Linked DNA regions of Homo sapiens: region 2 is linked to region 1. Evidence: fine-mapped expression QTL. A gene starts in region 1. The other region holds a variant in brackets. All regions are shown on one strand. Distances are from middle to middle.

Region 1 (5,527 bases):
GTGATGCCAAACATGCCTGTTCTGAAGATAACAAAGTAGTCTCTCAAACAACATGCAGGCACTTTAACATTAGTACTTCCACTGTTATTAAGTACAGACTTTATTTCTTTACTCTGACACCTTAAAACAACCCTCCATCCCCACAACCTAATTGAATGATTAAGTGTAAAGTGAATTACTAAGTCAGTGTGCCCCAAATTTCTTTAGATCACCAGTACATACCACAGCATCAAACCGGTTATGATAAATTTCTGCCTGGCTCTGCTCAATGTATTGTTGTTTAGCATGAATAAAAGCTGGTATTCCCCCATACACCCAGCCAATGATGCCTGCTGTAGCTGCCGTCTTACAGATATTAGCAAGGTCCTTTGAAATTCTCTGCTGTTCACTACAACATCAAAAAGACAATGTTGTTTGGGATTAGTTTATGGACATTGCTCTCCAAGAGACTCTATAATCAGAATTAACCCAAATGCTACCACCACAACATTTTTCATCATAGGTAGAATTCTCAGATGAATTAAACAGTTCAGTTATATTAAAAGGAACGTAGTCTCAGACAAAACGAAGCTATGGTGTTAGAATTAGGATAGTGGCAACTCCTGAAAAGACAATGACCGGAAAAGGCACAAGGGGAGCTTTTGGGATGTTACAATAGTTGCCATTTCTTTCTTAGTGCTGGGTACAGCTATGTTCAGTTTGTGAAAATTCATCCATCAGTATACTTAGGCACATTTTTCGAAATGCATTTCCTACTCCAATAAAAAGTTTTTTAAAAGGTGCTTTTGATGACTATTACACCCCTAGAAATAGGAAGAATTTGTGAGTTGGATAGAGAGACCAATATTTCCGTTTAAATCTTAAGTTAACTTTTAGAAATCACACCAACTCGTGAGATTTTAGGGCAATGTATGAAAGAATAAAAACGTGGATGTAAGACAAAAAATCTAAATTCTATTTTACTAAATAATTTCATGAAATACTCAGATAGGACTGTACTAATAAAAGCACTGGGCTGGGCACAGTAGCACACGCCTGTAGTCACAGCTAACTTAGGAGGCTGAGGTAGGACTTGAGCCCGAGTTCAAATCCAGCATAGCAACATAGCAAAGATCCTGGCTCTAAAAATAAACAAATAAATGTTTTTTTAAAAACGCACTGGGAAAGTTCACTATGCAGTGGGTGGCACATGCCAATCTAAAATAACAAGGAAAAACTACTATTTAATTCGATTTGTTACTCTCAAATGCATAAGAAGCTAGAACTGCTAATGAAGCTTCCAAGATGTCATCCTGAGACTGCTCTAACAAATAGCTGTCTTAAGTATTAAGTTACTATAAAATAATTGCCCTTCTAGGCCGGGCGCAGTCCAGCCGCGGTGGCTCAGGCCTGTAATCCCAGCACTTTGGGAGGCGGAAACAGGCAGATCACGTGAGGTCAGGAGTTCCAGACCAGCCTGGCGAATGGTGAAATCCTGTCTCTACTAAAAATACAAAAATTAGCTGGGCATGGTAGTGGGCAACTGTAATCCCAGCTACTCTGGAGGCTGAGGCAGGAGAACCGCTTGAACCTGGGAAGTGAAGAGTGCAGTGAGCCAAGATCGCACCACTGCACTCCAGCCTGGGCGATAGAGCGCGACTCAGTCTCGAAAAAAAAAAAAAAAAGAAAGAAAAATACGAGTTTGGGCTGGCGCGGTGGCTCACGCCTGTAATCCCAGCACTTTGGGAGGCCGAGGTAGGCGGATCGCCTAAGTCCAAGAGTTCAAGACCAGCCTAGGCAACATGGTAAGAACCCTGTCTATAAAAAATACATTAAAAAAAAATTAGCCGGGCGTGGTGGTGCGCGCCTGTAGTCCCAATTAATCGGGAGGCTGAGGTGGGAGGATCACTTGAGTCCCAGAGGCAGAGGTTGCAGTGAGCCGAGATAGCACCACAGCACTCCAGCCTGGGCGACAGAGCAAGACCCTGTCTGGAAAAAAAAAAAAAAAAAAGAAAGAAAAAAGATACAAGCTTGGGTTACAAATATCAGAACCTCAAATATAATCTAAAAATGAAGCACACCATCCTTGGTGTCCTAAGGCTGACCCAGGCTGCCCACGCTGCAGGACACCGCTTTCGCGGCCCCCTACCCCACTTCACACCCTAGGCACTTTTACTCTTTGCCAAACAGCTCCCGGAGGCGGTCCCATCCAGATTCCGGGTAATAGGGCTCTGGGACGTAGGGAAGCCGCTTCTGACGCTCCTCAAGGACTTCCGAATCGGCAGTCACAGCTTCGGCAGCAAAGACTCGGGGAAATAGGCACAATGCTCTACAGAGAAAGCTCCGCGGTGCCGGTGGCGGCACCTCCATGGCCTTCTCTCGACCTACGGACAAACTTGAGCGCTCAGGACTTCAAGTCCTCGCGGACGTGCCGCGGGAGAGCGTAACTGTACGAGGTGAGAATCCGTGCATTTGACCCAGGTTAACCCTCTGCCAGAGGGCTCGACACCCACACCTTCAGTCCCCGGCCTCGCTTTGGAGTCCTTGGAAATACGACACAGGAAGTCCCGCCCGACCGGGGCAAAGGCCAGGGGGCGGGGCGACGGCGAAGCCGGAGCCCAAAAGACTTCCGGTTGAGGGCGGGTTGGGCCACTGCTGTGCTGAGTGCACCCCCGGAAGTGAGTTGGCTGCCAGTAGTGAAGCTCAGCGTGGTCCCGGCAGGCCTTCGCTCCGTGTTTGTGGTTCCTGGGTCATGCAAACGGTGTCTGCGGCTACTTATATTCAGCTTGAGGTGGTCATAGGTTGAAGTAATTTATCGTATTTAAAATGCCAGGAATTAGCCGGGCATGGTGGCGGGCGCCTGTAATCCTAGCTACTCGGGAGGCTGAGGTAGGAGAATCGCTTGAACCCGGGAGGCGGAGGTTGCAGTGAGCCGAGATCACACCACTGCACTGCAGCCTGGGCAACAAGAGCGAAAATCTGTCTCAAAAAAAAAAAAAAAAGGCAGGAATCCCGCTTCAGTAAGGAAGAAAGTGCAATATTCAGTGCAAGTGGAGTAGGGAAAGAGGGAAAGGCGATTTGTGCAAAAACAAGTCCAACCTACTCTGCCAACATTAGAGAAGCCTTCCAGGCTGGGCGGGGTCCGTTTGTACCTTGTCAGTTCTGCTGGAAAAAAAACGAGGCATTGGGGATGGGTGTTGGTGCCAGTTACACTAAGATTTCGAGAACACTTTTTTGAAGAATCAGCTTTTTGGCAGGTCTTCCTAAGGTGGATTTCACTCCCTTTAGTTCATATGCCTACTGCTTCTCAAAAGGCAGGAGAATTTCTGGAATTTCTATCAAGTGTTTGTATAATTTGCCGTCACTACAACCTCTGCTAACATATGCTTCGAAGTACAGTTTTCATTAAAATGAATGCATTTAAAATATTCTCAATATTCGTGTAATTTCATTCAATCCTTGTTAACAAGCATACTCCCTTATTCATTTTGCCAATCCCTTCACCTCCTTGATTCCTTTCTAGTTGTCAATCAAAACTGCCACACTGTAGTAGAATACAGTAAGTGGACTTAGGAATTTGATAGCTGGAAATGCTACACATAAGTCCCTGAGAAGTGACTGACTAGAGTGACCAGCTCAATTAGTGACAGCGCCATGAAGACTACTCTGGGATATGAGATTTGATTCAGCACTCATCGTAGCACTTACAACACTGCATCATAATTTCCTATTAATCTGTCTCAATAAACTATCCTTGAGATCACAGACCAAATATATTCATCTCTGTATCTCCAGGACCTAGAACCGCAGTAGGTGCTCAGTAAATATTTGTTGAATAATTCAGATCTCCTGACTTCTGGCTCTGGATTACTGCTTATCCCATGTTAGGTAGAAGTGGGCACCAAGATAAGTTACCAAGGCCTGAAAGCCCAAGAAAATGGCTGTACAGTCTGTTTCTAACCTATATGTAGAAAAAGCTAAATGCATAAGATGACCCCAGAATTATTCTGGGGTGAAGGAGGACTTGAAATGGGTAGGAGGGTTTGGGTGGGTGTTGGGAAGATACTGACACAATCACTTATGTACAACTCAAATGCCCCAGGATTCACTAGCCTGTAGATGAGGTAATATTAACAGGCAAATTTTAAATTCCATAACTTGTTTCTCATTTGGGTAACGGAAGACTCATTTGTAATGTTCCTTTTGCCACCTGATAACTCAAAAAACTCCCCTCTCCTTTGGCTACTGCTCGCACTGTTGCTGCTCTTCCATCTGAGCCCTCCCACATTTCCTACTTCCCCAATCCCTTACGGCTTACCTTCTTTTAGAACAAGGGAAATGCTCACCCTCCTCTGTAGTCTGCTTATTTTATTTTATTTTTGATACAGTCTTAGCTTCGTCACCCAGGCTGGAGGGCAGTGGCAAGACCTCGGCTCACTGCAACCTCTGCCTCCTAAGTTCAAGTGATTCTTGTGCCTCAGCCTCCTGAGTAGCTGGGATTACAGGCATGTGCCACAAGCCTGGCTAATTTTTGTATTTTTAGTAAAGATGGTGTTTCACCATGTTGGCCAGGATGGTCTCAAACTTCTGGCCCCAAGTGATCTGCCTGCCTCAGCCTCCCAAAGTGCTGGGATTACAGGTGTGAGCCACCAAGCCCAGCCCTGTAGGCTGTAGTCTGCTCTTTTTGAAGGTTCTCCGATCAATACAGTCTAAGCCAGAGGTGTCCAATCTTTTGGCTTCCCTGGGCCACATTGGAAGAATAATTGTCTTGGCCCACACATAACACTAACTGTAGCTGATGAGCTAAAAACAAAAAACAAAAAGAAAAGAAAAAGAAAAAAGTCCATGCATAAATCTCATGTTTTAAGAACGTTTACAAATTTGTGTTGGGGCGCATTCAAAGCTTTCCTGGGCCGCGTGCAGTTCGTGAGCCATGGGTTGGACAAGCTTGGTCTAAGCCAAAAGGTGTTATGGGGTTTACTGGACCACTGTTTCACATATGGCTTTCTTGTCCCCAGGACATGTGTTTGCCAGCAGAGTAACTGCATCAGGGAAAGATTTCAGTGCAATCACCATACTGCCTGGAACACCATTCTTCCACCAACAGCCCTTGTTGCTGAATTCTGTTTATAGAACCTAATAGTTTCTTCCCTCACAGTGAATTTTTTTCTCAGGGGTCAGCAGGTTCCCTTCCCTGCCAGGTTCACCAAGTACTGCCCTTGCTACGTATTTTACATTTTGTTACATTATATATGATATAAAACTTTTCAACATGTGGAGAGAGAATGAATTTTGAGAACTCCAAGAACCATTTCATTTACTTATCCTTCATGGTATAAATTAATTTTTACCTCCACAAAGTTTCCCATCTGCTCCAGTTGGAAGTTTATTCTTCCTCTAAACTCCAGATCCACATTGTCTTCATGAATAATTGGCACTCCTGTTGCCTTAATCACCTTCCACGTATGTATGATGCCTCTCATATTGTTTATCATCTCAACGGCACAGCCCCTTGAGGTTTGGGAGCCTCTTGTAAACTTTCCTTGTC
Region 2 (5,000 bases), 52 kb before region 1:
ACCCTGGAGGCGGGGGTTGCTGTGAGCCAAGATCATGCCACTGCACTCCAGCATGGGCAACAGAGCGAGACTCTGCCTCAGTAAATAAATAAATAAATAAATAAATAAATAAATAAATAAATAAATAAATAAAGTGTACAATTCAGTGGGTTTTAGTATATTTGCAATGTTGTGAAACCACCATCACTATCGAATTCCAGAAGGAAATGTTCTGGATGATGATGGAAATCATCATCCCAGAAAGAAACCTGCGCCTATTTGCAGCTACTCCTCATTCCCCTGTACCCCATCTCCTCGTAACCACTAATTTACTCTCTGTCTCTATGAATTTGCCTGTTCTAGACATTTCTTTTCTCTTCCTTTTTTTCCAGAATCCAGGTAAGAAAGAATATTCTGGACATTTCTTACAATATGTGGCGTTTCGTGACTATTTTCTTTCACTGAGCATTATGTCTTTCAGGTTCATCCATGTTGCGTATGTCTTAGTACTCCATTCGCTTTTACGGCCAAATAATATTCTGAAATAATATTCTGTTGTAGATTGAGATCTATTTTTTCTTTTTGTAGCGATGGGGTTTTTGCTATGTTGCCTAGGCTGGTCTCGATTTCCTGGGCTCAAGCAATCCACCCGCCTTGGCCAGCTCCCAAAGTGCTGGGATTACGGGTGCCTGGCCTAGATTGAGCCCTTGAGAGGTCCTTTTTTTTTTTTTTTTTTTTTTTTTTGAGACAGAGTCTTGCTCTGTCGCCCAAGCTGGAGTGCAGTGGCACAATCTCTGGCTCACAGCAAGCTCCGCCTCCCGGCTTCACGCCATTCTCCTGCCTCAGCCTCCCGAGTAGCTGGGACTACAGCTCGTAAAAGTCCTCCACACAAAAATCAGCCCGCCACCACGCCTGGCTAATTTATTTTTTTTGTATTTTTAGTAGAGACGGGGTTTCACCGTATTAGCCAGGATGATCTTCGAGCTCCTGATCCGCCTGCCTCGGCCTCCCAAAGTGCTGGGATTACAGGCGTGAGCCACCACGCCCGGCCGAGAGGTCCATTATTTGTCTAAAATTCTTGGTCTCTACTCTTGTTGGCAAATAGCTTCCTCTCCTGTGTGGCTAGCAGTCCAGAGTTGAAGTGGTCAGAGCAGGAGGGTGGCCAAGGGGTCAGGAGAGGCAGAGGCTGAGGCCAGCAGTGTTGAGTGTCCCTATTGTGCCCTACAGGTGGGCAGTTTCCATGCATTCGCCAGAAGGCGAGCAGCGTTGCCGTCCATCTCTGCCTTCTCTCCGCCTCCTTTCACAGCCTCTGGCCCTTTCTGACTGCTGCTGGGTAGAGGTGCAGGAGGGGCTCCCCATGCCAGCTATGGGCACTGAACTCAGTTCAAGAATCAGCCAGTTACCATGGTGATGCTGGTCCTATGGGGGTGTGGTTCAGCAAAGCAGGCTGTTGTGCATGAGAAAGAACAGCCCCATTTAAAATCTGTAGAGCATTCTAAAGTTAAGAAAGCACTTTACATCTGGTATCCTGTGATCGCTGTGATAATTATGTGAAGCAGGGAAGATAGTTATCTCGGTCTGGTTTGTGCTGCTATAACAGAATACCTGACATTGGGTAATTTAGAAAGAACAGAGATTTATTTCTTACTGTTCTGGAGGCTGGGAAGTCCAAGGTCAAGGGGCTCACATCTGATGAGGACCTTCTTGCTGCATCATCCCATGGCAGAGGATAGAAAGGCAGGAGAGCACGCCCAAGGCAGAGTAGGAAGGAGGCCAAAACCATCCTTTATAAGGAAGCCACTCCTGCTGTAGTGAACCCACTCCCAAAAAAATGGCATTAATCCATCCATGATGGCAGAGTCTCCATGACCTAATCACCTTTTAACAGTCCCAATTCTCAACACTGTTGCACCCGGAATTAAATTTCCAACACAAAACCTTTAGGGGACACATTCAAATCATAGCAATAGTATTATGACTGTTTTACAGAGATGGAACCTGAAGCCCAGAGAGGTTACCCAGCTTGCTCAAGGTTATGATTCTAATACACAGTGGATGGAGCCAGACCTCATTTCCTCATGCCTAGACATGCATTCAGCAAGTATTTACTGAGCACCTACTATGGGCCAGGCCCTGTTCTAGACACTGCAGATATGGCAGTGAACAAAGGAGGAAGCCTCTGCTCCATAGCTCCATACGTAATTATGTATCACATATACCTGTAAATATACATCACAGTTGTAAAAATATATATCAGCTGGAGACAAGCCTGAAGAGAAACAAATCAGGCAAAGAGACTAAAGAGTAGCAGGATGGAGGGGGGCAGGGAGGATGGCGCTGTTCAAGGAGAGTCAGGGAAGGCCTCTTTGACAAGGGGCCACGAGAGTAGATGTGAGCAAAGTGGGACCTGAACTGTGTGGATCTCTGGGGAAGACA[C/A]TGGCTCCCTCTAATGTCCTAGGTACTGTGGAGGACTTTTATGAGCAGTATCTCATTTTGAATCCTTGCACCCACTGGGTTGGGTAGGTGTTACAATGCCCATTCAAAAATGGCAAAGCAAGCTCAGAAGTTCAACCAGGTTTGAGACAGTAATATTGAGATTTCCAGGTGCTGACTTTCCCCGCCAGTCACTGAAGCAGACAAAATCGTTAGAGACATTTCCGTTTCAACTGCTTTTTGTCCGTGTGTGATGGAGTCCCTAAAACAGACAAAACTGATATAAATTTGGGCAAATTTATAATGACTGTTTTCTGTCTCTGTGTGGTGGAATCCCGAAAACTGGGTTCCCGTGTGAATTTCCAAATTGTTCGGAAGATTTTGGGTTCCTCTTTTTAGTCCTGTTCTTCTTCACTCTTCTCCTCAGAAGGCTGGACAAAAACTCCTCAGAAGCCATCACCAAAATTAGATAGTCTCTCTTTCAGCTATGCTTTCACTTTTGCTAACATCACCACATACCAAAATCAGTGAGAAATATTGGATTCTTTTTGGCTGGGAATGAATAGTTCGGTGGGGAAAGACCCTATTATTGGGAGGCCCAGACAAGTGAGTTGCTGTCTGTCTGGCCCATAGCAAGACCAGAGTGCTATATATCTGACATAACCCTTGAGTGAAATGAAAGGTAAGAGTTGGCAGTGGGAGGAGGGAGAAAGAAAAATGGAAACTCTTACAGAAGACCTGCTATGTCCTTGGGACTTTTTATTTATATCATTTAATTGAACTGAATTTTCCAGTGATCCCAAGGGGTAGGTGTCATACCTATTTAGAGATGAAGAAACAGATGAAACAGCAAGTGGCTGAGCTGGGACTAGAATCCAAGTCAATGGAGATGGATAGCCCATGTTCCTTCTACGTCTCATTTTGCTTTCCTTGCAACACTAGGAGTGTCTGGGTTGTCATTTGATCTTTAGCTAATATAGCTTCACTTTGAAATATGCTCCCTTCAAGTATGTCTTTTTATTTCTTCCTTTCTTTCAGTTATATTCCCTAAAGCAGGGACTGGCAACATTCCACACAATTGCTGAAGAGGTGCCTGGACCTTTCTGCATTACCTCACTTTGCTATGCAAATACCCACCATCACAAAACTCTCTTGTTCAGTGCTGTGGTGGGGCCGTATCCAGTCTGACAGAGGCCTGAGAATGGCTGGTGAGATGGAAAGGTGCTAGTGCCCCATGATCCTGCTATCTAAGAAAAGAGAGGGCTTGGAAATGAAGTCCCTAGACATGGGTCTCCCTAAGGGGATCTGTGTGGCTCCAGGGGATACAGGGCCCAGAAGGCACAGTACGACAGCACTGGGCAGGGGGCGCTGGGGCCTTAGAGGGATGCTGCTTTTAGGTCCTACAAGAGCCTAGGAAGAATGACCATGCCTTCTAAACCAAAAATCAGAAAATACAGCCTGCTAAGGAATTTTGGTGCTATTGACACAGAGACTAGTTTAGATATTGATATGCTGATATTTCTTGGCTATGTGGATGGAGAAATGAACAGAATATTTTAAATAAAAACTCTTTTAGCAAATCCAGGCTGGAGGGTAATTGTATGGCATGGACTGCAGATAGCCAAAGAGATAAAGGCAGGATATAGGATCCATTTAGGGTACCTGAAGATGGTAGAAATAGTCCAAAGGTATAAGCATGGGAGTCATTTCAGCCTGGAACCATGGGATCAATCAGGCCTGGAAAGAAAGGGACTCTGTTTCTTATTTATTTATTTATTTATTTATTTTGAGACGGAGTCTCACTCTGTCACCCAAGCTGGAGTGCAGTGGTGTGATCTTGGCTCACTGCAACCTCTGCCTCCCAGGTTCAAGTGATTCTCCTGCCTCAGCCTCCTAAGTAGCTGGGATTACAGGTGTGTCCCAACATGCCCGGCTAATTTTTTTGTATTTTTAGTAGAGATGGGGTTTCACCATGTTGACCAGGCTGGTCTCAAACTCCTGACCTCGTGATCTGCCCACCTCAGCCTCCCAAAGTGCTGGGATTACAGGCTTGAGCCATGATGCCCGGCCTGGGACTCTGTTTCTTATAGCAAAAGGGCTCAGTGGTAGGGCTGGATTGGGGTGGGTGGGGACAGTGTTGGCTTAACTTACTGACTGTGGCCTAAAACTGAAGAAATCGGTAAACAAGAAGAATGGCCCTAAAAGCCTGGGCCAGAAAGAAAAAAATGTGTAAAACTGGGGCAGTTTCTTTTCCTCAGCTCAGTTTCCTCATTTGTAAGATAAGGCCACGAGAATGAATGATCATGGAAGTCCCTTCCAGATCTCACATTCCTTACTATGACTTTCATATCCCCTGGGGCTGAGCACATCGTTTAACCCATGGTTGGCACTTATATTCAGGTCTTCTCAGGGGACCAGTGGACTTTCTCACTCACTAGGGATCCCTGTCTCTGTCCCCAACTCCTGGCCCATAGGCATCTGGCTATATACATAAGACAAGCAGGTGCCTTTCCATATTTCTGAATGCTCACGATGTCTCATCATGCTAGGCGTGGTGGCTCACACTTGTAATCCCAGCATTTTGGGAG

What was found. PIP is the estimated chance that this variant, and not a neighbour inherited with it, causes the effect. A credible set is the group of variants that fine-mapping cannot tell apart.
Region 2: its variant is the best candidate, but not a certain one, in a credible set for the expression of TIMMDC1 in skeletal muscle (GTEx, PIP 0.87).

Annotation. Positions count from the first base shown.
Region 1 is chr3:119,495,556-119,501,082 of GRCh38, reverse strand. It overlaps TIMMDC1 (translocase of inner mitochondrial membrane domain containing 1), which reads right to left and starts at 2,536. Exons shown (of 7, transcript NM_016589.4): 1 at 2,156-2,536; 2 at 223-388. The coding sequence starts at 2,349. RefSeq lists an enhancer at 2,747-2,796.
Region 2 is chr3:119,548,237-119,553,236 of GRCh38, reverse strand. All of the region lies in intron 2 of CD80 (CD80 molecule), which reads left to right. Among named protein-coding and RNA genes, the nearest start is that of CD80, 8.9 kb to the left of the region's middle. RefSeq lists an enhancer at 2,706-2,925. The variant C/A (reference allele first, on the strand shown) is at 2,416.